Regions from separate parts of the Homo sapiens genome. Here all the other regions are linked to region 1. Evidence: fine-mapped expression QTL. A gene starts in region 1. Each other region holds a variant in brackets. All regions are shown on one strand. Distances are from middle to middle.

Evidence for each region. PIP is the estimated chance that this variant, and not a neighbour inherited with it, causes the effect.
Region 2: its variant is fine-mapped to the expression of MAPK8 in lymphoblastoid cells (GTEx, PIP 0.98).
Region 3: its variant is fine-mapped to the expression of MAPK8 in whole blood (INTERVAL, PIP above 0.99).

What each region holds. Positions count from the first base shown.
Region 1 is chr10:48,301,845-48,310,032 of GRCh38, reverse strand. MAPK8 (mitogen-activated protein kinase 8) reads right to left here and starts at 3,356. Exons shown (of 12, transcript NM_001323329.2): 1 at 3,212-3,356. RefSeq lists a silencer at 2,776-3,725.
Region 2 is chr10:48,274,593-48,282,780 of GRCh38, reverse strand. FRMPD2 (FERM and PDZ domain containing 2) reads left to right here and starts at 8,085. Exons shown (of 29, transcript NM_001018071.4): 1 at 8,085-8,188. RefSeq lists an enhancer at 3,108-3,277. The variant G/A (reference allele first, on the strand shown) is at 3,541.
Region 3 is chr10:48,347,221-48,355,408 of GRCh38, reverse strand. All of the region lies in intron 1 of MAPK8 (mitogen-activated protein kinase 8), which reads right to left. Among named protein-coding and RNA genes, the nearest start is that of MAPK8, 45 kb to the right of the region's middle. The variant T/AAAAT (reference allele first, on the strand shown) is at 4,137.

The sequences.
Region 1 (8,188 bases):
CAAAGTTCAACTTAACCTGCATTAAGAGTAAGAATGCAAGGCTTCTAAATGTTCAGGTAAAGAGCTCATGATTAAGACAATCAGCATCACAGTTCACTGACATAGGCAAATGATTCATATATAAAGCTATGTGGTTATAATGACTTCCTTGGACCACATGAATCAGAAAAGCTACTACCCATACCATTGACTTGACCAGAGACCTCTAGAGCACTGGAATCCTAATGTCAGACATTATTTTGTATTTCCACTCGTGCAACAAAGCATCTCAACCATGTAGATGACTGAAATATGTCAAAATTCAACCCGCTGGCAAAGCAGACCAACAAGAAGCAGGCTCCTATTCAACAACCTCTTAGCACTAGGATAGTTGGGGACTAGTCATTTAACAACAAATTCCTTCAAGTTGTTTCACTGAACATCTCATCCTCACAAGGTCACTTTGATAATATCAGGCATGGAGCAAATAGTTAAGATTATAACCACATTAATTTGTATACAATTTATTCTTGCACTGACTTCCTTTCCAAATGGCATTTCCCCCAGGATCTAAAGGAGTATGAAGGATATAGTTTCCTATTCTGCCAGGACAGGACATTTAAAAGGAGCCCTTTTCATACTTACTAAAGGAATATATTTACTAACAGAATCGATGCTATATCTCTTACTTTAAAGGATAATTTGAAGTGAAATTCAGAGTGACTGCTAATGGATATGGTGTTTCTTCTTGGGGTGATGACAATGTTCTGGAATTAGTGATGGTGATCAAGGCACAACACTGTGAAAATACTAAAAACCGAAATATATACACTCTAACTGGTGAATTTTATGTCAATTAAATTGCAATAAAGCTATTTTTAAAAACCAACAATTTGGAAAACAAAGTAACACAACTCTGGTTCTTTACACAGCCTGTGAGCTACTGCCAAAGGATTGTCAGTAACCCCTACTAGAATCTGACATACCCTAACTAGGTAAAGCAATAAAACTTTGGTATCTCAAAGATTTTCAACCATCATCTTAAAAAAGTATTATTTTCTTATTTCTTCATTTCCACTTTACAGCAAATAATAAGAAACTCATTAGTTAACTCATTTCATATTCTTTCAAATACAAAACAAACGCTAAACTGTATTTAGTAAGTGGAAAAGAGCTTTAACTTCGATAAATCAATTATTTTGAGTTTTAGGCTCATATTTTGTACCAATTGTGTTAATACAAGTTAGAACTTAAAACCAAACATTTCAAGTAAACATTTCTAAAATATTAGAAATATTTCTAATAAAACATTTATGTGGTTTTGTCCTCAATTTTCCACAATAAGAGTCACCAAAAAACTTTCAAATAATATTCACAAAATTATAAATGCAATCATTTTAGACCCCTACTGAAATACCAGTTTATGAGTGCCTGTGTGTGGATTACGTACATGCACACACACGGACACACATAAACTAGCACATACACAGAAACACACACTCCACAACCTACTTTATTTATCATATTAAAAAAATATTTAGACAAGATTTTATTTTAGGACAGTGAATGACCTACACGTGATTCAAAAGCCCATGTCATCATAACAGATAATGTACATGAACTGACCATTTAGCCATCTGATGCGACAGTTGCATGAAGCTTCCAAAACTTTATGGAGAACATTACGGTTTTTTTTAAGGCTTGATTTTAAATATTATCAATTACAAAGAGCTTTTCATCAATCCGACTTTTATTGAACACTTACTATATTCCAGGCTAGGTGGTGGAGAAACAGATGCAAGACAGGCCTGCCCTCAAGGAAGTCCCATTTTGATTGCTTGCTTTTGTCAGGCACAGCACTAAACATGTTCACTTAGAGCATCTGACCTCCTAGGTTTAACGTTAACCACAGCAGGGGAATCTGAGGTAACCATTACAAATGACTGTAAGGCTGCAAGACTGGAAAAAATAAAATTTAGAAATAAATAAAAGCTGTTGTATATTTAGACCAAATCTAATTCTACTTCCTATTACACTTGAACTTCCAGATATACTGCTTAAAAAATGACCCAGAATATAACCATACCTTCCTTAACAGACATCACTTATGTAACTGTCTCATTTAAAGGTCCATCTATTATACTTCAGTCAAAGCATCCTCTTCCATGAAAGGATACTTTACCTTCACACCAAACCTCTTCATCTGAGTACGGTACTAAACAGCTGCTGAATGAATGAATGAATGAAAAAACAGATGTTCTAATTGCCAAGGAGGTACTTGCTGGATGCTTATCTCAAAACACAATGGACTGACGGACCAGAATTCTACTGGAAAGATCGCTGGATTTCAGAGGTAAAAATAGTAATCACTGGACAATGCCATGTAGTCAACATGTTATTAAATTCGCAGTAAAGACCAAGCAGGGAACTTTCAGAAATAAAAACGGAAAGTGTTCATCAGGGTACTTTAAAATGGACTTGGTTCTACCATCTCTGAATCGGGAACACAAATGCGAGACAAAGAGATGGGAGGGTGGGGTGAAAAAGTCAAAAGGTCACCACCGATGACCCTCAAGAGAAATGCGCGCTGACCACCGAAGCTCGGGCCAAGCTGGATGGACACCTCCCACCCGAGCCACGGGCCTGGGCTCTCTGCCCTGCAGCCCAGAGCTGCAGGCCACTCTGGCCCTTTTCAGCGCTGCTGCCTGCGTTCGCCCAGAACGTTAGCACAAAGAAAGCATCGAGAAGCAAAATACGGTCCCTATGGGCGCGGGGCAGGCTTGGGGACCTGCCGGCAGAAGCGCTCTCCCCGGCTCCCCGCCGCCCCGGAGGCAGCCAGGGCGCGGCGGGCCGCAAAGACACCTCCGTCCGACCCTTGCCGAAGTGTTTCAGAACTTGCCACCCACCCCCCCGCTCCATTTTCTTCTCCCGCCGCGGAGGCAGGACCCACGCGAAGAGGACGCGAGAGGACAGGCGGGCGGGGCTCGCGGCGGCAGGCGGGCTGGCGGGCAGCGGAGCGCACCCAGGTCCCGCAGCCCCACGCCCCCTCGGCTGGCCCCCGCCTCCGCGCCGCTATTGTTCCCGCGCCGCCCCCGCCCACCGCGCGCTCCCGCCCCCACTCCCAGGAGGGGGTTACGGCTGAGGAGAAGGCGGCGGCGGCGGCAGCGGCACAATAACATAAACACGACGGGGCCGCCTGCCGTCCCGGCCCTGCGGCGTCCGCCGCACTCACCCGGCAGCGCAGCGAACGGCGACAGGGAAGCCCGCCAGCGGGGACAGGGGCCGTCCGGGGTGGTCGCCGCGGCCGTTACCCAGCGCTGCTCGCGGCTCCGCAATCCAAGCCGCGTCGTCCGGCCTCGGCCGCTCGGCTGAGTAACAGAGACGCGGGCCGTCACCGCGCACGCCCGCGCACGTCATCGCGCAGGGCCCCGCCCCCGCGCCTCCCGAGCGGCCGGCGGGGCGGGGCAGCCCCGGGGCCCGGATTGCGGGGGCGGGGCCGCCGCCCGGGGACGGCGCTACTCCAGGGGTTACGAGAGGACTTGCGGAGGTCGCTTGGAGGCGGAGCCGCGGAGAGAGCCTCCGAGGGCTGTGGGTGAGGGGCGTGGCCTGGAGCGGGAGGGGCGGGCCCTGTGGCGGCACGTGGCGGCGCGTGGCCCCAGGGGACCGCATCTGGTTGGCGGCGGTAGCCAGGTCAGAGCTTAAGCCTTCGGGCCTCGTCGGCACAGGGTTGAAGGGCAGGTGCGCTTAGGCCTAACCTGCGCAGCGAACAGGCACCCCCTTCCGGTACACACACCTGAGTGATGAAGAGCTGGTTACCTTGACCGACAATATGTTCCATTCTGAGGACACCTGTCCGGGTCCCAGAAACCTACAGAGAGATAAGTGTTCTCTTCAGCTGCCCGGGAAAAGCTGCCTCCAGTTTTTCCAAAATCCACCTCCTCCGAGATTCCTTGCAAATCCACCTCTTCCCAGATTCCTTGCATTACCTGGTTTACTTCTGAGGCCCCACAAAGCGTGTAAATGTTACAGAAGCGATAAATTGACAAGTCCTTTAAATATCCAACAACGGGTGGAAAGGCGTTTGAACTACCTACACCATTCGGTAGAATACATTTTAGCAATTTAAATGCCATGTGTTCAAGGAATTCTTAACAACATAGGAACATGTTCACAATGTATCATTAAGAGAAAGAAGCAAGAAACAAGTCATATATAGAATGGTCCCACTTAGATACTATATATACACATAGAAAAAACCTGGAAAGAAATACACCAAATTATGTTAACAATGGTTCATCATTGGACTATGGAATAAAGGGTGACTTGGTTCTCGTTTATACTTTGGGTATTTTCTCATGTTTTCCGAGAGGAATAGTTATGTTCACAATCAGAAACAAGTAAGTTACTTTAATAATGAATATATAAATATTTGTTGAATAAATGAATGATTTCAGGTAAACTACTTTCCTATTACATGTGGGGCTGGCCTGTTTCTGGTGATTCTGAAAGGGAACATACAGATGATTATTCATTCATTCTCTTCCCATTTCCTCTCTCCCTCCCTCTCAACCTTCTTAATTTCCTTCCTGCCATCCTTTGTTCCTGCAATAATTATTTATTGCATGCCCATTCAGTGCCAGGCAATACAGTAGAGTTTACAGATTTAATCACTGTACTATGAAAGTAATAATAGTAAACGCAAAATTATCACTGTTTTATAATACAAATTGTTAAGGATACATAATACTATGAAACCAATTAATACACTAGTTAATAAGGCCAGAAAAGATTTCCCTGAGGAACTGTCACTTGAGCTGGGAATAGGTTTGACTAGACAGAGAATATTTTAGAGGTAGCTTTGCACGCAAAGGTCCTCTGATGAGATTAAGCAGGATAAGATGGAGAAATTCAGGAAAGGCCAGCTCTGCTGGAGGAGCAAGGAAGAAGGAGCTATGAGATGAAGTCAGGAAGATTGGTAAAGGGACCAAACGTAGGACATCCATATTGGCCATGTTGAAAATCTTTTTATCCTAAGTGCAATGGGAAGCCCCTGACATATTCAGCAAAGGGTGTGGCATGGTCAGAATAGCTTCTTGAAAAGATTCCTTATTGGAAAGAGCCCAGGTGGATGTAGGAGTAGCCTAGACGGTAAGAGGTGGAAGCTTGATCTAGGGTGATGGTCATGGAAATAGTTGATGGACATGGAAAGATCTGTGAATTATTTAGGAGGTCCAACGGGCAGAACTTGCACATTCTCCAAGTGATGGGTTATGTGGGGCAATGAAGGAGAGGGAGTCATCAAGGAAAACTCAAAGGTTTCTGGCTTGTGGCCAAGGATGGATGTTAGTGCTGGTTTACCAAGATGGGAATCTTGGAAAAGGACCAGACTGGCATTAAAATATCATGAGAGCAGGCTGTTTGGCTGTTTGAAGGCTTTTGAGATGCCCAAAACTGATGTTAAGTTGGTGGTTGGATATACAGAGCTGAGGTTCAGCTAGTTAAGAGACGAATCATTGACAGTGAGTGATTCCTTGAAGCCTTGGGATAGATGGGTCAGCCTAGGCCTGAGGAGAGGGCCTGCAACCAGGCTTGGGGAACTTCAGTGTTAAAGGGCCACAAAGGGGAAGATGAGTCTGTGATGAGCTGCCAGGGAGATAGAAGGATAACCAGGAGAGAGGTGTTCAAGAAGAAAGGGCTGATCAATAATATTAAACATAAGAGGAGGCTTGGAATCCTGGAGTAATAGAACCAGAAGTGAATTAGAGTGGGCTGGGAAATGAATGGGAGGTGAGAAAATAAAGGTGGTGAATATGGATGAGTCGGGCAGTGAAGTAGGACACAAGCATATTTTACATCTGATGGGAAGACTGTTGAGAGGGAGAGGTTGAATACACACAAAAGAGAAGGAAGACGTGTGTTTCCAGAGAGAACGGGGTGTGATTGAGTGCACAGACAGAGGTACCACCTACTCTTCACCAGACAAATTAAAGGCCTGGAGGTAACAAAAAACAATACAACCCTTAGAGCTGTTGTGAAGTGAGGGGAGTTGCTGGGAGCAGAGCTCCAGAGTTTCACGCCCAGTTCTGTGATGCTATTGTTAATAACCGCCTCTGTCTCACTCCACAGAGTGAGCTTCTGACTTAGTATCAGTCTACCATGGTCAGCTTCTGATTATCTACAACTAGAAAGAACATTCCACATATTTACATATGTGCGTTTGTGTGTTTGTGTGTGTGTATGATTGATTTCAGAAAGCATTTTGCTATTTCTGATGGAATGTAATTATCTCTGATATTCTGCAAATTCAAAATGCTTTTCTGTAACCCAGATGCAGTGTTGGGCCTTCTTCTTCCTTTTCATGCAATTCTTTCTTGTCAACCTGTTAGGGTTCCTTGTTAACCTATTAAGGGGCTGACTCAGAAAAAGAGGAAAATATAGTGAATTCAGGTTTCTTGTCTCTTGTCCCAGGGGAGCTGTCTTGGGGACACCTGGTCTTTGGATACCTCTGAGGCTGGGATGGGGAAAGGAGAGAAGAGGAACTGTAGGCCTTTCAAACTCAGCCTCTGCTGGAGCCCTGAGGGATGTTCAAGAAGAGGTTGCACTCCACCAGAGTATCTCTTCCCTTGTCATCCCAGACCACACACAATGGATTGCACTGAAGATGTTTCTTTGGCTAAGGTAGTCAGGTGAATATCACCAAGCTGTTCAGGGTGCAGAAACTGAAAGCTGAGACTTCAACTTACTTCCTAATTCCCTGACCTCACCCCAGGGGTGGGGAGTTGGGTTGGTGGGAAGGTACTTACCAACTAAAGCCTGCAGAAGGGCATCTCCAAGGACACTCCCTCTCCCCTGACTCCACCTCCACCACCATCCTTCTCTGTTAGCCTTGCTTTCAAGCCTCCCAGTCTCGTCTCCCACCCATGTCTCCAGTCAAGTCTACTTTTCCCCCAACAGGAGGGAGAGGTTCAGCACCTTGGTCAGTCAGTCCCTGACTCAGGGATGTTCTTTGAGAATCTTTCAAGGTGGAGCCTGCTGGCTCCCGATAAAGCAAGACAGACCCTGGATGCATGAGTAGAGGAAAGATGAGTGTTCGTATTGTAAATCCATCCTCCAGCTGCAAGAACTGTGGCTCCTCAGGGGTAGGAAAGGGCCAAAAATGGCCCGAGCTCCTCAGTCGCAACTTGAACAAAATGAAGTGGAGACAGAATGGGCAGAACTCTGATTTGAAGTTACAAGTGGTACCCTGTTTTTGCTTACAGGTACATGCAAGAGAGAACCAACTAAGCTAGTCAAGTTTATAGATTGAGTACACATGCATATTTCCATGGGAAAAAAAAAAGGTCAGCATTTATTCCTCTAAGACGATGGTTTTCAAATTGTGGTTCCCCAGACCAGCATCAGCTGAGAACTTGTCGAAAATGCAAATTCTCATACTCACCTTAGACCGGCTGAGTGAGAAACCTTGAGGAAGAAGCCCAGCAATCTGTGTTTTAATGAGCCCCCCCAAGGCATTTCTGATGCCCATTTGAGTTTGAGAATCCCAGCAGCAGGACACTGACTCACAAGTCACCCTGCTCATTTTAATCACCTGGGTGGGGAGGGGCTTTAAAACTGCCCACACCCGGCTGAACGTGGTGGCTCACAGCTGTAATCCTAGCACTTCGGGAGGCCGAGGCAGGTGGATCACAAGGTCAGGAGTTCAAGACCAGCCTGACAAACATGGTGAAGCCCCATCGCTATTAAAAATACAAAAATTAGCTGGTCGTGGTGGCGCAAGCCTGTAATCTCAGCTACTCAAGAGGCTGAGGCAGGAGAATCACTTGAACCTGGGAGGTGGAGGTTGCAGTGAGCCAAGATCACACCACTGCACTCCAGCCTGGGTGACAGAGCAAGACTCCGTCTCAAGGAAAACAAAACAAAACAAAACACTACCCACACCCAGGCTCCATGTCTGGTGCTCCTTCTCCAGTGGTCTGGGGTGGAGCCCAGGCTTCTGTAGCTATTTTCACATCCCCTCAGGTAATTTTAATTTGTAGCCAAAAATGAAAGCCAGTGCCCTAAGAAATTTGGCGTATTTTCTGTTTTTTTAAAACCTCAGAGCAACTGGACAGAACATCTTGCTCTCCATTAGCTTTTGTGCTTTCATTCTTTATTCTTACTTTCATTATTGGTTCTTTTTTTCCAATGTTTTGCCCACCTCCCACATCTT
Region 2 (8,188 bases), 27 kb after region 1:
CTGTGATTAAGGTCAGTGGAAAACTACAACAACCCAGTTCAGACAGGAGCTACCAATGGCTCAGATACTTCAGGAATGAAGGTTTAGGTCACTCCACCAAGTAAAGAACCATGGTCATCTGTGATATATGCTGAAAGCAAAGGGAATACAGAATGAGTAGTGGAAGAAAATAGTTATAAACACCAGCAACGACCATGTAAACAGTTACAGAAATGAGGACTGTAATTATCATGAATATTTCCTCCTTATTTTGTTATGAATATATTTTTGTGTGTGTATATAATATTTGTTTTCTTTCCTTTCTTATTTCTTTATCTGTAACATAATATATATTGACTTTATATCATAGTATTTAAGTATTGATAATTTTACATCAAGTATTTAAGTTACAATATATCAAGAGGAGAAGTAAACATCATTCAAGGATTTACCTCTCTTATGGGGAAAGGGTTATTACTTTTTTTTGTTGTATGCAGGATAATTGTAACATGTTAGGTGAAATAATGCCCTTGTTATTTTCTTGTCTTTATTTGGAAATTAAGTGTGATACACACTTTACAGATATACTATTTGTCTTTAAATCACAGTCAAGTAGACACAGGGTAGAATTGTGATGACTAATTTTATGTGTCAATTTCATTGGGCCATGGGTTGCCCAGATACGTGGTTAAATGTTATTCTGGGTGTATGATATTTTTTGGCTGTGTTCTCACCCAAATCTCATCTCGAATTCCCACATGTTGTGGGAGGGACTCGGTGGGAGGTAACTGAATCATGGGTTCAAGTCTTTCTCATGCTGTTCTCCTGATAGTGAATAAGTCTCATGATAGCTGATGGTTTTAAAAAGAGGAGTTCCTCTGAACAAGCTCTCTATCTTTGCCTGCTGCCATCCATGTAAGATGTGACTTGCTCCTCCTTGCCTTCTGCCATGATTGCGAGGCTTCCCCAGCTACATGGAACTGTAAGTTCAATTAAACCTCTTTCTGTTGTAAATTGCCCAGTCTCGAGTATGTCTTTATCAGCAGCATGAAAATGGACTAATAGAGTAATTTGGTACCAGTAGAGTAGGGTGCTGCTGAAAAGATACCCAAAAATGTGGCATCAACTTTGGAACTGGGTAACAGGCAGAGGTTCGAATAGTTTGGAGGGCTCAGAAGAAGACAGCAAAATGTGGGAAAGTTTGGAACTTCTTAGAGACTTGTTGAATGGCTTTGACCAGAAGCCTGATATTGATATGGACAATAAGATCCAGACTGAGGTGGTCTCAGATGGAGATGAGAAACTTTTTGAGAACTGGAGCAAAGGTGACTCTTGTTATGTTTTAGCAAAGAGAATGGCGGCATTCTGCCCCTGCTCTGGTACCCCCCAAATTGGTACCCCATATGCCCCAAATTGGAGGAGATTTTTGGAACTTTGAACTTGAGAGCAATGATTTAGGGTATCTGGTGGAAGAAATTTCTAAGCAGCAAAGCATTCAAGAGGTGACTTGGGTGCTGTTAAAGGCATTCAGTTTTATAAGGGAAGCAGAGCATAAACATTCAAATAATTTGCAGTCTGACAATGTGATAGAAAAGAAAAACCCATTTTCTGAGGAGAAATTGAAGCCGGCTACAGAAATTTGCAAAAGTAACAAGGATGAAGCTGGAAACCATCATTCTCAGCAAACTAACACAGGAACAGAAAACCAAATACTGCATGTTCTCACTCATAAGTGGGAGTTGAACAATGAGAACACATAGACACAGGGAGGGGAATATCACACACCTGGGCATGTTGGAGGGTGGGGGGCAAGGGGAGTAATAGCATTAGGAGAAATACCTAATGCATGCAGGGCTTAAAACCTAGATGATGGGTTGATGAGTGCAGCAAACCACCATGACACATGTATACCTATGTAAAAAACCTGCATGTTCTGCACATGTATCCTAGAACTTAAAGTGTAAAAAATAAAAATAAAAAATTTTTTTCAAGTAACGAGGAGCTGAATGTTAATCACCAAGACAATGAGGAAAATATCTCCAGGGCATGTCAGAGACCTTTGTGACAGTCCCTCTCATCACAGGGCTGGAGGTCTAGGAGGAAAAGGTGTTTTTGTGGGCCAGGCCCAGGGTCCCCGTGCTGTGTGCAGCCTAGGGACTTGGTGCCCTGTGTCCCAGCCACTCCAGCTGTAGCTGAAAGGAGCCAGTGTCAAGCTCAGGCCATGGCTTCAGAGGGTGCAAGCCTCAAGTCTTGGCAGCTTCCACATGGTGTTGAGCCTGCGAGTGCACAAAAGTCAAGAATTGAGGTATGGGAACCTCTGCCTAGATTTCAGAAGATGCTTGGAAATGCCTGGATGCCCAGGCAGAAGTTTGCTGCAGGGGCAGGGCTCTCATGGAGAACCTCTGCTAAGGCAGTGTGGAAGGGGAATGTGGGATCGGAGTCCCCATACAGAGTTCCTACTGGGGCACTGCCTAGTTGAGCTGTGAGAAGAGGGCAACAATCCTCCAGACTCCAGGATGGTAGATCCAATGATAGCTTGCACTGTGTGCATGGAAAAGATGCAGACACTCAACACCAGCCCGTGAAGGCAGCTGGGAGGGAGGCTGTACCCTGCAAAGCCACACCTGCAAAGTCTTGGGGTGGAGCTGCCCAAGACTATGGGAACCTACCTCTTGCATCAGCGTGACCTGGATATGAGACATGGAGTCAAAGGAGATCATTTTGGAGCTTTAAGATTTGACTGCCCCACTGGATTTCAGACTTGTATGGGGCCTGTAGAACCTTTGTTTTGGCCGATTTCTCCCATTTGGAATGGCAGTATTTACACAATGCCTGTACCCCCACTGTATCTAGGAAGTAACTAACTTGTTTTTGATTTTACAGGCTCATAAGTGGAAGAGACTTGCCTTGTCTCAGATGAGACTTTGGGCTGTGGGCTTTTGGGTTAATGCTGAAATGAGTTAAGACTTTGAGGGACTGTTGGGAAGGCATGATTGGCTTTGAAATGTGAGGATGTGAGATTTTGGACGGGCCAGGTTGGGATGATATGGTTTGGCTGTGTCCCCACCCAGATCTCATCTTGAATTCCCACATATTGTCGAAGGGACCCGGTAGGAGGTAATTGAATCATGGGTGCAAGTCTTTCTCATGCTGTTCTCATGATAGTGACTAAGTCTCATGAGATCTGATGGTTTTAAAAAAAGGAATTCCCCTGCACAAGCTCTCTGTCTTTGCTTGCTGCTATTTATGTAAGATGTGACTTGCTCCTCTTTGCCTTCCACCATGATTGTGAGGCTTCCCCAGCCACATGGAACTGTAAGTCCAAGTAAACCTTTCTTTTGTAAATTGCCCAGTCTCAGGTATGTCTTTATCAGCAGCATGAAAATGGATGAATACAGTGTACCTGTAAGGTTGTTTCCCAGTGAGATTAGCCTGTGAGTTGGTGGACTAAGTAAAGGAGACTCCTCTCCCTAATGTAGGTGGGCATCACCCAGTCTGTTGAAGGCTTGAACAGAACACAAAAGCAGAGGAAGTGAGAATTTGCTCTCTCTCTCTCTGGCT[G/A]ACTGCACTGGGCCATTGGTCTTCTGCTCTTTGACTGGGACTTACCATGTTTCTCAGGCCTTTAGACTCAGAGTGAAACTATCTCATCTGCTTTCCTGGGTCTCCAGCTTGCAGATGGCAGATTGTGAGGTTCTCAGCCACCATAATCACATGAGACAATTCCTTATAAATAAATATCCAATTGGTTCTGTTTCTCTGGAAAACAAAAGGGCACAACTGGCAATCGGATTTATTATTGAATTTCACTTGATTATATACCTCACTTTCCAGAACTCTCTATAAATAGGAGTAAACACAGTTTTTGAAAGTGAAGCAATTAAATTAAAAAATATATAAACTCAAAGATTTCGATCAGCCTAAAACCTCCTTCAGCTGATAAACAACTTCAGCAAAGTTTCAGGATACAAAATCAATGTACAAAAAAATCACTAGCATTCCTATATGCCAACAACAGCCACGCCGAGAGTCAAATCAGAAAGGCAATCCCATTCACAATTGCCATAAAAAGAATAAAATACCTAGGAATACAGCTAACCAGGGAGGTGAAGGATTGCTACAATGAGAATTACAAAACACTACTCAGAGAAATCAGACAAGACACTAACAAATGGAAAAACATCCCATGCTCATGGATAGGAAGAATCAAAGTCATTAAAATGGCCTTACTGCCCAAAGCTATTTACAGATTCAAAGCTATTTCCATCAAACTACCAACAATATTCTTCACAGAACTAGAAGAAAACTATCTTAAAATTCATATGGAACCAAAAAACAGCCTGAGTAGCCAAGGCAATCTGAAGCAAAAAGAACAGAGCTGGAGACATTGAGTTACCCAACTTCAAACTATACTACAGGGCTACAGTAACCTAAACAGCATGATGCTGGTACAAAAACAGGAACATAGACCAATGGAACAGAATGGAAAGCCCAGAAATAAGGCTGTACACTTACAACCATGTGAATCTTCAACAAAGCTGACAAAAACAAGCAATGAGGAAAAGACTCCCTGTTCAATAAATGGTGCTGAGATAACTGGCTAGCCACATGCAGAATATTAAAACTGGACCCCTTCCTTACACCATATACAAAATTAACTCAAGATGGATTAAGGACTTAATGTAAAACCAGAAACTATAAAAACACTGGCAGACAACCTAGGCAATCAATACCATTCAGGACATAGGAACTGGCAAAGATTTCATGACAAAGACACCAAAAGCAATCACAACAAAAGGAAAAATTGACAGTGCGATCTAATTAAACTTAAGAACTTCTGCACAGCAAAAGAAATTATCAACAGAGTAAACAGACAACCTACAGAATGGGAGAAAATATTTGCAAAATATGCATCTGACAAAAGTCTAATATCCAGCATCTATAAGGAACTTAAACAAATTTACGAGAGAAAAACAAACGACCCTATTAAAAAGTGGGCAAAGGACATGAACAGAAACTTCTTAAAAGAAGACATACATGCGGCCAACAAGTGTATGAAAAAAGCTCAACACCATTGATAATGAGAGAAATGCAAATCAAATCCACAATGAGATACCATCTCACACCAGTCAGAATGGCTATTAATAAAATATGTATAAAGAAACAGATGTTGGCAAGGTTGCAAATAACAGGGAACACTTATACACTGTTGGTGGGAATGTAAATTCATTCAACCATTGTGGAAGACAGTGTGGCAATTTCTCAAAGACCTAGAGACAGAAATACCATTTTACCCAGCAATCCCATTACTGGGTATATACCCAAAGGAATATAAATTGTTCTATTATAAAGACACATGGACATTTATGTTCATGGCAGCACTATTCACAATAGCAAAGACATGGCATCAATGTAAATGCCCATCAATGACAAATTGGATAAAGAAAATGTGGTATACATACTCCATGGAATACTATGCAGCCATAAAAAAGAATGAGATCATGTTTTTCATGGGAACATGGATGGAGCTGGAGGCTATTATTCTTAGCAAACTAATTCATGTACAGAAAATGAAATACAGTATGTTCTCACTTATAAGTGGGAGCTGGATCGTGAGAACTATGAGCACAAAGAAGGAAACAACAGACACTGGGGTCTACCTGAGGGTTGGGGGGGTGTGAGTAGACAGAGAACCAATAACTACTGGGTACTGGGCTTAATATCTGGGTGATGAAATAATCTGTACAACAAACCCCCATGACATGAGTTTACCTCTGTAACAAAACTTCACATGTACTCTCGAACCTAAAATAAAGTTTTTTTTTTAAATGATCATACGCAATAAAGAATTTTGACAGGAAAATAACCTTAAAAAATAAAAATATATAAAATATAACAAAATTATATAGGGAATGACACAGAGATAACTCAGAGAGAAACTATTAGCTTTGATAACTTGAAAAACAAAAACACATTGATAAAATTTTTATGCAAAAAAATGGACTTAATGAAATGTTAGCAGAGCAACAATAGAAGGGGGTTACTGCTAGTATTTTTAACAGAAAAAGTGAAAGTGGTGGTGACTTTAAGCAGACCAGCATTTACCTGTTGGCAGATGACTTAGGTGTTGCTTTTTGTTCTGTTGTGAACGAGCCACATGACTGGAGAAGTCAACTTTCTTCTTCTGGGAGAAAGGTTGCGTGGTCAGCCTGAAAAAATTACTAAATAAAAATTACCTGGACACTTGCTGAAAATACAGATGCTCTGGCTCGGGCCCAGAGATTCAGGTTCAGCAGATTCAGGGTGGTGCCTGGGAATCTGCATTTTATCGTCTTCAAGGCTGAATCTGATGAGAAGACAAGTTTGGAAAAAACAGTAAAAGATTGTTGCAGATATTGTGAAATGTTTTGCTAGCTAGCAGGGAATGTCAATATAGATAGCTTTAAGCAGAAAAAAATGTAAAACATTGTGTTTTTTAGTTTTTTTCAAGTAATATAACATAAGGTTATAGGGGGAAAATACCAAAATGAACAATAATTTTCCTGACTAAATAATGAGCCAAAACTCTTTCCCCTAGCAACCACTATTAAGTTGCTTGTGATTCCTTCCAGAACCACAAGAATATGTCTACATAATATTCTAATATACTACAGTGTATAAAGAATATGTATACATAAATATACGTAAATATACCTGGTCTTTATGTACCTATTTGTAATAAAAGGAAACATACTAGGCTATTCCATACCTTTTGTCACTTAAAGAATTTTCTAGGCAATTGTTATATGCCAGCACACACAGATCTACTTCCTTCCTTTACACAGCTGCATAGCTGGTTTTCTACTGTGTGTGAACTACAATAATCACTGTTGATGGGCACTTCAGTGGCTTTCAGTTTTCTGCTACTACCAAAATACACTGCAAAGAGCATCCTTTCTCAGATGCTTTGGTGAACTTTTGCAAGAATGTCCATGGGGTTACTTCTTAGCAGCTGGGTTTACAAAGGATATGTACATTTACAAATTTGATGAATATTACCAAATTCCCTGCAGAGAAGTTGCACTTATCTGTAATCTCACTATTGGCATATGAGAGTACTCATTCTCCATGCCCTCACCAGCACTGAGTTTCATCAGATTTTTTTTTCGAGACAGAGTCTCGCTCTGTCACCCAGGCTGGAGTGCAGTGGCCCGATCTTGGCTCACTGCAAGCTCCGCCTCCCAGGTTCACGCCATTCTTCTGCCTCAGCCTCCGGAGTAGCTGGGACTACAGGCACCCGCCTCCAGGCCCAGCTAATTTTTTGTATTTTTAGTAGAGACGGGGTTTTGCCATGTTAGCCAGGATGGTCTCGATCTCCTGACCTCGTGATCTGCCCGCCTTGGCCTCCCAAAGTGCTGGGATTACAGGCATGAGCCACTGTGCCCGGCCTCAAATTTTAGTATTTTATTCTGTAGTCAGGCAAAAACTCATGTTTTCTTTTTAAATAAATACGTCTCAGTTTTGACACTGCTATTGATTTAAAGGGCTTGAGAGATCTGTTCTTTTGCCCCTTCTACTACAGAGCTATGATCTACTTCTTGCTGTTCCCCATCTCTGCTGGTTCCTTTCTGAATCCAAGCACCAGAAAGAGTAAGAATTCCTTTCCCCCTTTCTCTAACCACATTTTTCTTGCTTTCTCACAGACAGATCCAGGTTATCATTTCCTCCTGCTGCTTTCACATGGTTCCCTGTCCTGTTGGTTGCAGGTCCAATGTCTGACACTATGAAAGGGCATGGAGGACTCTTGAGTTGATGACACTAAGCCTCTGCTCTGGGGCTGCCCCCAGTTCCTTGCAGAGCTCTTTCTTTTGATTGGGCCAGGAGATAAAGAGACATCAGCGTAAAAGCCCTGCTGAGCAGCAATCCCATTGCCTTCAGTGGCACCTAATCCACTTGAGCTCTTCCTGGCTCTCTCACGGGTCACTGGCTTTGAGGACGCAGGCTGCTGGGGTGGCAGTGCCTGCTAACAGGCCAGAGACTGCGCAGGACCCAGGGAATGAGAGTGGTGGCAGGAAAGGGAAGGGGCCTTGTTGACTCACTCGCTGGGCAGCAAGTGCTTAGTGACAAGCAGTAAACAAAGACAGCGGCAACAGTGCTGGTGGCAGGGAGCTCCGCGGACAGACTTGCAAGAGACCCCTGCTCCTTGTTGGAAAGTTGTCCCATGATGAAGGCC
Region 3 (8,188 bases), 45 kb before region 1:
GCCTCCCGAGCTGCTGGGACTACAGGCACCCGCCACTACACCCGGCTAATTTTTTGTATTTTTAGTAGAGATGGGGTTTCGCCGTGTTAGCCAGGATGGTCTTGATCTCCTGACCTCGTGATCCGCCCACCTCGGCCTCCCAAAGTGCTGGGATTACAGGCGTGAGCCACCACGCCCAGCCCTATTGAGGACTTTTAATAAAGTTTCAACTACTATAATTTTCAATTGTATAAATTCTAGCTATTTTTAAAAAATCTCTTTGAATAGTCTTTATAGTTTCTGAATCTTGGAACATATTTTCAACTTTTGTTGAAACATATGAAACACTTACTTCATATTCTGTAGCTGCCTATTCCTATTTTCCAGCAGGTCTGCTGTTGAGTCCTGCTCACAGTGCTTAGTTTCTTTATGTTTTTCTTTTTGACTATCACAGTTGTTCTACTTACTTAGAATTTTATTTCTAGGAAAACTTTCAACTCTGGGATGGAGATGAGTTTCTCCAAAGAGAATTTCTGTTAGCTTCTACAAGAGTCTGGGGATACTCACTGCCAGTCTATGTATACTGCCATTATGGGGATAAATTATCTTAGGGAATTCTTTTTCTGTTTTTTTTTTAGATCACCTACACAGCGTTAAATTCGCACTGCAAATTATACAAGGGTCAGCTGGTTGCTTAAAATTCTCAGCAGTGATCTTGCCCCCATATTCACTCCGACAAGGTTTTAGCTATACAAATAATTTTTGCAGTGTGGTTCCCGACCAGCAAAATCACTATCATCTGGAAACTTATTAGAGGTACAAATTTTAAAAGTCTCACCCCAGACCTACTGAATCTTACACTCTGGGGATGTTGCCCAGCAATCTTTGTTTTAACAAGTCCTCCATGTGATTCTGATGCACATTAAAAACTAAGAAGCATGCAGAAAATCAACTTTCCCTGCAATCTTGAAGGATGGTGGGATTGGTGGTGGTTTCCAGTTTAGCTGAGTCTCAGCTTTAAGGTGAAGAGGAAGAACGTATCAGATTCATCATCCCAGAAAGAAAGACCTTATTATTTCCTCAGGTTCCTCAATGCTCTCTGATGCTGAGGAAAGGAAACCAGATTTGGCAAATGCCCCCTGGGCAAAAACCAGTTTAAATGTCACAGACAATTTCCCAGACATCCTGTACCTTCCCTTCCCTTGTTTTCTTTTTTTCTCTTAAGAACTTTCACTTGATGCTTTAGCTAGGATAATTTAAAAAAATTTTTTTTTAATTTTGAAATAATTTTAGATTCAAAGGAAGTTCCAAAGATAGCAAAAGAGGTCCCCTGTACCCTGCACCCAGTTTCTCCCATGGTTACATCTTACTATAATATAAAATCAAAACTAGGAAACTGACATTAGTACAGTGTGTGTGTATAGCTATGTATCGCTTTATCACAGGTGCAGATTTGTGTCACTACCACCAATCACAATCAAGATACAAAACTGTTCCATCGCCACAAAGACTACCTGCTTTATAGTCACATTCACTTCCCTCTCTGTTCCCATAACCCCATCCCTAATCCCTGGCAACAACTAATCTGTTATTTGTCCTCCATGTCTATAATTTTGTCATTTCAAGAATGTTCTATAAATGCAGTCATACATATGTGACTTTTCGAGCTGACTTTTCTTCACTCAGCATAATGTCTTTAAGAGTTCTGATTAGTTGCATATACATCACATTCCCTTCTTATTGCTGAGTAGGATTCCATGATACAAATGAATCACAAATGTCCCAGAGATTTTTTTTTCCATGTTTTAAGTTTTATGGTTGTAGGGTTTACATTTAGAATCTATGATCCACTTGCAGTTAATTTTTGCACAAGGTTTAGGTCAAGGTTTATTTTGTTGCCTATGGCTATCCAACTGTGCCAGTACCATTTGAACAGGCCACTTTCCTCCACTGAGTCTCTTTTGTACGTCTGTCAAAATCAATTGGCTTTACTTGTGTGGAGCTATTTCTGGGTTTCTAGTCTGTTCCACTGACCTATGTGTCTATCTGTCTGCCAATACTACACTGTCTTGATTATGCTATCTTTATAAGTCGAAATTGAGTATAGAGTGTTTCCTCCCACCTTATCTTTTTCAAAACTGTATGAAAAACTAGCTACTCTGGTTCTTCTGTCTTTTCATATAAATCGTAGAAAAATTTTGTCTATATTTACAAAAAGAACCTGCTGAAATTTTGTTAAACTTGTATTACATCTATTTTAGGAAAATAGTCATTTATAACATGCTGAGTCTTCCAATCTATGAGCACAGTATGTCTTTCCATTCATTTGGGTCTTTGATTTCTTTCATCAACATTTAATAGTTTTCATCCAACAAGTCCTATGCATGTCTTGTTAGACTGATATCTAGGTATTTCACTTTTTTTTTAGCAATTCCAAATAGTATTTCACTTTTAATTATGGTTTTCACACGTTCATTGCTAGTGTAGAGAAATTCAATTGCTTTTTAAATGTATCTTGTGATCCTGCTACATTATTAGTTCCACAGATTTTTTGTAGATTACTTAGGATTTTCTAAACAGATGATCACGTCACAGGCGAAAAGGAAGGTGTTTCATTTCTCCTTTTCCAATTGTCAGGGCTTTCCCCCCGCTTGTTTTACTGTGCTGGGTGGAACTCCCAATATTTTGTTGAATAAGAGTTGTGAGTGTGTGCATCCTTGTCACCTTGTTTCCAATCATAAGGGGAAAGCATTCAGTCTTTCATCAGGTATGATGCTGTTTATTTTCTATAAATATTCTTTATCCAGTTGAGGAAGTTTGCTTCTATTCCTAGTTTTCTAAGAGTTTTAATCATAAATGGTATTGAATTTTGTCAAATGCTTCTATAGCATTTGATATATTTTCTTCATGATCCTGTTAATATGGTTACATTGATAGATTACATTGACAGATTTTCAAATGTTGAATCAATCTTGCATTCCCAAAATAAAGTCCACTTGGTCATTGTGTTTAATTCTATTTATATACCGTTGGATTATACTGATTAACATTTTGTTAAGGATTATCTACATCTATACTTAAAAAGGAGTTGGTCTTTATTGGTAGGTTTTTTTTTTTGGTATTGTCTTTGCTTTTGGTAGCAAAATAATACTGATTTCATAAATGAATTAGGAAGTATTCCCTTATTTTCTGGCAGAGACTACACAGAAATAGTGTAAATTCTTCTTTAAGCCTTTGCTAGAATTCTCCAATGAAATCATTCGGGCCTATTTTCATTTTAAAATTATAAAGTTCTATTAAGTTGTAGCACTATTCAAATTATCTATGCCATACTGAGTGACTTGCAGTATGTTGTACTTTCTGAAAACTTAGTTTATTTCATCAAAGTTGTCAAATTTATTTCTGTAGATTTTTAAAAATAGTATCCTTTTCATGTCCACAGGCTCCAGAGTGGTGGAGCATCCCAAATCTGATAATCTGAAATCCGAAATGCTCCAAAATCTGAAACTTTAAGAGTACCAACAAGACACTCAAAGCAAATGCTCACTGGAGCATTTTTAGATTTTGGGTTTTTGAATTCGGGATGCTCAACCAATGCAAATATTCTAAAATCTGAAAAAATCTGAAATCCGAAACATTTTTGGACCCAAGCATCTCAGATGAAGGATACTCAACCTGTATCTCTTATTTTACTCCTGATGATTTGTGTCTTCTTTTTTTTGTGTCAGTTTTGCTACAGTTTTACCCATTAAGATTTTATTTTGGTTACTGTATTTTTCAGTTATAAAGTTTCCAATTGGTTTTTCTTTACCTATTTATTTGCTATGCTGAAAACTTCCTTTTTTTTTAATTTATTTCAAGCATGTTCATAACTGCTTGTTGAAGCACTGTCTTGATGACTCCTTTAAAATTTGTGTCAGGGCGAGGTGCCATGACTCATGGGTACAATCCCAACACTTTGGGAGGCTAAGGCAGGAGGATCGCTTAGCCCAGCAGTTTGAGACCAGCCTGGGCACCATAGCGAGACCTCAGGAGGCTGAGGCGGGACAATCATTCAAGCCCAGGAGTTTGAGATTGCTGTGAGCTATGATCACATGCCACTGCACTCCAGCCTGGGTGACAGAGTGAGACTCTGTCTCAAAAAAAAAAAAAAAAAA[T/AAAAT]TCAAAGTTATTTTTTCTAATTCTGTGAAGAAAGTCAATGGTGGCTTGATGGGGATAGCATTGAATCTATAAATTACTTAGAGCAGTATGGTCATTTTCATGATATTGATTCTTCTATCCATAAGCATGGAATGTTTTTCCATTTGTCTGTGTCCCCTCTTACTTCCTTGAGCAGTGGCTGGCAGTTCTCCTTGAAGAGGTCCTTCACATCCCTTGTAAGATGTATTCCTAGGTATTTTATTCTCTTTGTACCAATTGTGAATGGGAGTTCACTCATGATTTGGTTCTCTGTTTGTCTATTACTGGTGTATGGGAATGCTTGTGATTTTTGCACATTGATTTTGTATGCTAAGACTTTGCTGATGTTGCTTATCAGCTTAAGGAGATTTTGGGCTGAGACGATGGGGTTTTCTAAATATACAACCATGTCATCTGCAAACAGAGACAATTTGACTTCCTATCTTCCTATTTGAATAACCCTTATTTATTTCTCTTGCCTGATTGCCCTGGCCAGAACTTCCAATACTATATTGAATAGGAGTAGTGAGAGAGGACATCCTTGCCTTGTGCTGGTTTTCAAAGGGAATGCTTCTAGCTTTTGCCCATTCAGTATGATATTGGCTGTGGGTTTGTCATAAACAGCTTTTACTATTTTGAGATAAGTTCCATCAATACTTAGTTTGTTGAGTTTTTAGCATGAGGGGCTATTGAATTTTGTCAAAGGCCTTTTCTGCATCTATTGAGATAATCATGTGGTTTTTGTCATTGGTTCTATTTATGTGATGGATTATGTTTATTGATTTGCATCTGTTGAAACAGCCTTGCATCCCAGGGATGAAGCAGACTTGATCATGGTGGATAAGCTTTTTGATGTGCTGCTGGATTTGGTTTGCCAGGATTTTACTGAGGATTTTCGCATCAATGTTCATCAGGGATATTGGCCTGAAATTTTCTTTTTTTGTTGTGTCTCTGCCAGGTTTTGGTATCAGGATAATGCTGGCCTCATAAAATGAGTTACGGAGAAGTCTCTCTTTTTCTATTGTTTGGAGTAGTTTCAGAAGGAATGGTACCAGCTCCTCTTTGTACCTCTGGTAGAATTCGGCTGTGAATCCGTCTGGTCCTGGGCTTTTTTTTGGTTAGCAGGCTATTAAGTACTGCCTCAATTTCAGAACTTGTTATTGGTCTATTCAGGGATTCAACTTTTTCCTGGTTTAGTCTTGGGAGGCTATATGTGTCCAGGAATTTCCCCATTTCTTCTAGATTTTCTAGTTTATTTGCATAGAGGTGTTTATAGTATTCTCTGACGGTAGTTTGTATTTCTGTGGGATCAGTGGTGATATCACCTTTATCATTTTTTATTTTGTCTATTTGATTCTTTTATCTTTTCTTCTTTATTAGTCTGACTAGCAGTCTATTTTGTTAATCTTTTCAAACAACCAGCTCCTGGATTCACTGATTTTTTGAGGGGTTTTCCGTGTCTGTATCTCCTTCAGTTCTGCTCTGATCTTAGTTATTTCTTGTCTTCTGCTAGCTTTTGAACTTGTTTCGTCTTGCTTCTCTAGTTCTTTTAATTGTGATGTTAGGGTGTCGATTTTAGATCTTTCCTGCTTTCTCCTGTGGGCATTTAGTGCTATAAATTTCCTTCTAAACACTGCTTTAGCTGTGTCCCAGAGATTCTGATACATTGTGTCTTTGTTCTCATTGGTTTCAAAGAACTTATTTACTTCTGCCTTAATTTCATTATTTACCCAGTAGTCATTCAGGAGCAAGTTGTTCGGTTTCCATGTAGTTGTGTGGTTTTGAGCGAGTTTCTTAATCCTGAGTTCTAATTTGTTTGCACTGTGGTCTGAGAGACTGTTATGATTTCTGCTCTTTTGCATTTGCTGAGGAGTGTTTTACTTCCAATTATGTGGTCAATTTTAGAATAAGTGTGATGTGGTGCTGAGAAGAGTGTATATTCTGTTGATTTGGGGTGGAGAGTTCTATCGATGTCTATTAGGTCCGCTTGGTCCAGAGCTGAGTTCAACTCCTGGATATCCTTGTTAATTTTCTGTCTCGATCTGTCTGATATTGACAGTTGGGTATTAAGTCGCCCACTATTATTGTACGGGGGTCTAAGTCTCTTTGTAGGTCTCTAAGAACTTGCTTTATGAATCTGGGTGCTTCTGTATTGGGTGCATATATATTTAGGAGAGTTAGCTCTTCTTGTTGCATTGATCCCTTTACCATTATATAATGCCCTTCTTTGTCTTTTTATCTTTGTTGGTTTAAAGTCTGTTTTATCAGAGACTAGAATCGCAACCCCTGCTTTTTTTTTTTTTTGCTTTCCATTTGCTTGGTAAATATTCCTCCATCCCTTTATTTTGAGCCTATGAGTGTCTTTGCACATGCCCAAAAAAGAGCCCGTATAGCCAAGACAATCCTAAGCAGAAAGAACAAAGCTCGAGGCATCACACTACCTGACTTCAAACTATACTACAAAGCTACAGTAACCAAAACAGCATGGTACTGGTACCAAAACAGATATATAGACCAATGGAACAGAACAGAGGCCTCAGAAATAACACCACACATCTACAACGATCTGATCTTTGACAAACCTGACAAAAGCAAGCAATGGGGAAAGGATTCCCTACTTAACAAATGGTGTTGGGAAAACTGGCTAGTCATATGCAGAAAACTGAAACTGGACCCCTTCCTTACACCTTATACAAAAATTAACTCAGGATGGATTAAAGACTTAAATGTAAGACATAACACATAAAAATCCTAGAAGAAAACCTAGGCAATACCATTGAGGACATAGGCATGGGCAAAGATTTCATGACTAAAACACCAAAAGCAATGGCAACAAAAACCAAAATTGACAAATGGGATCTAATTAAACTAAAGAGCTTCTGCAAAGCAAAAGAAACTATCATCAGAGTGAATAGACAACCTACAGAACGGGAGAAAATTTTTGCAATCTATCCATCTGACAAAGGGCTAATATCCAGAATCTACAAAGAACTTAAACAAATTTACAAGAAAAAACAACCCCATCAAAAAGTGGGTGAAACATATGAACAGACACTTCTCAAAAGAAGACATTTATGCAGCCAACAAACACATGAAGAAAAGCTCATCATCACTGGTCATTAGAGAAATGCAAATCAAAACCACAAGATACCATTTCACGCCAGTTAGAATGGCGAACATTAAAGTCAGGAAACAACAGATGCTGGAGAGGATGTGGAGAAATAGGAACACTTTTACACTGTTAGTGGGAGTGTAAATTAGTTCAACTATTGTGGAAGACAGTTGGCGATTCCTCAAGGATGTAGAACCAGAAACACCATTTGACCCAGCAATCCCATTACTGGGTATATACCCAAAGGCTTATAAATCATTCTACTATAAAGCCACATGCACATGTATGTTTACTGCAGCACTGTTCACAACAGCAAAGACTGGGAACCAACCCAAATGCCCATCAATGACAGACTGGATAAATAAAAAGTGGCACATATATACCATAGAATACTATGCAGCCATCAAAAAGGATGAGTTCATGTCCTTTGCAGGGACATGGATGAATCTGGAAACCATCATTCTCAGCAAACTAACATAGGAATAGAAAACCAACCACCACATGTTCTCACTCTTATGTGGGAGGTGAACAATGAGAACACATGGACACAGGGAGGGGAACATCACACACCGGGGCCTGTTGCGGGGTGGGGAGCTAGGGCAGAGATAGCATTAGGAGAAATACCTAATGTAGATGACGGGATGATGGGTGCAGCAAACCACCATGCCACGTGTATACCTATGTAACAAACCTGCACATTCTGCACATGTATCCCAAAACTTAAAGTACAATAAAAAAATTCTTGTCAAATAATTCTAGTATCTGTGTTATTTCAGTGTCAGCATGTATTAACTGTCTTTTCTAATTTGAGCTGACACTTTCCTGCTTCTTGGTATGAGAGGTTTTTTTCATTGAAACCTGGATATTTGGGTTATTACATTAGGTGACTGGATCTACTTTTAATATTCCATTATAGTAAGCT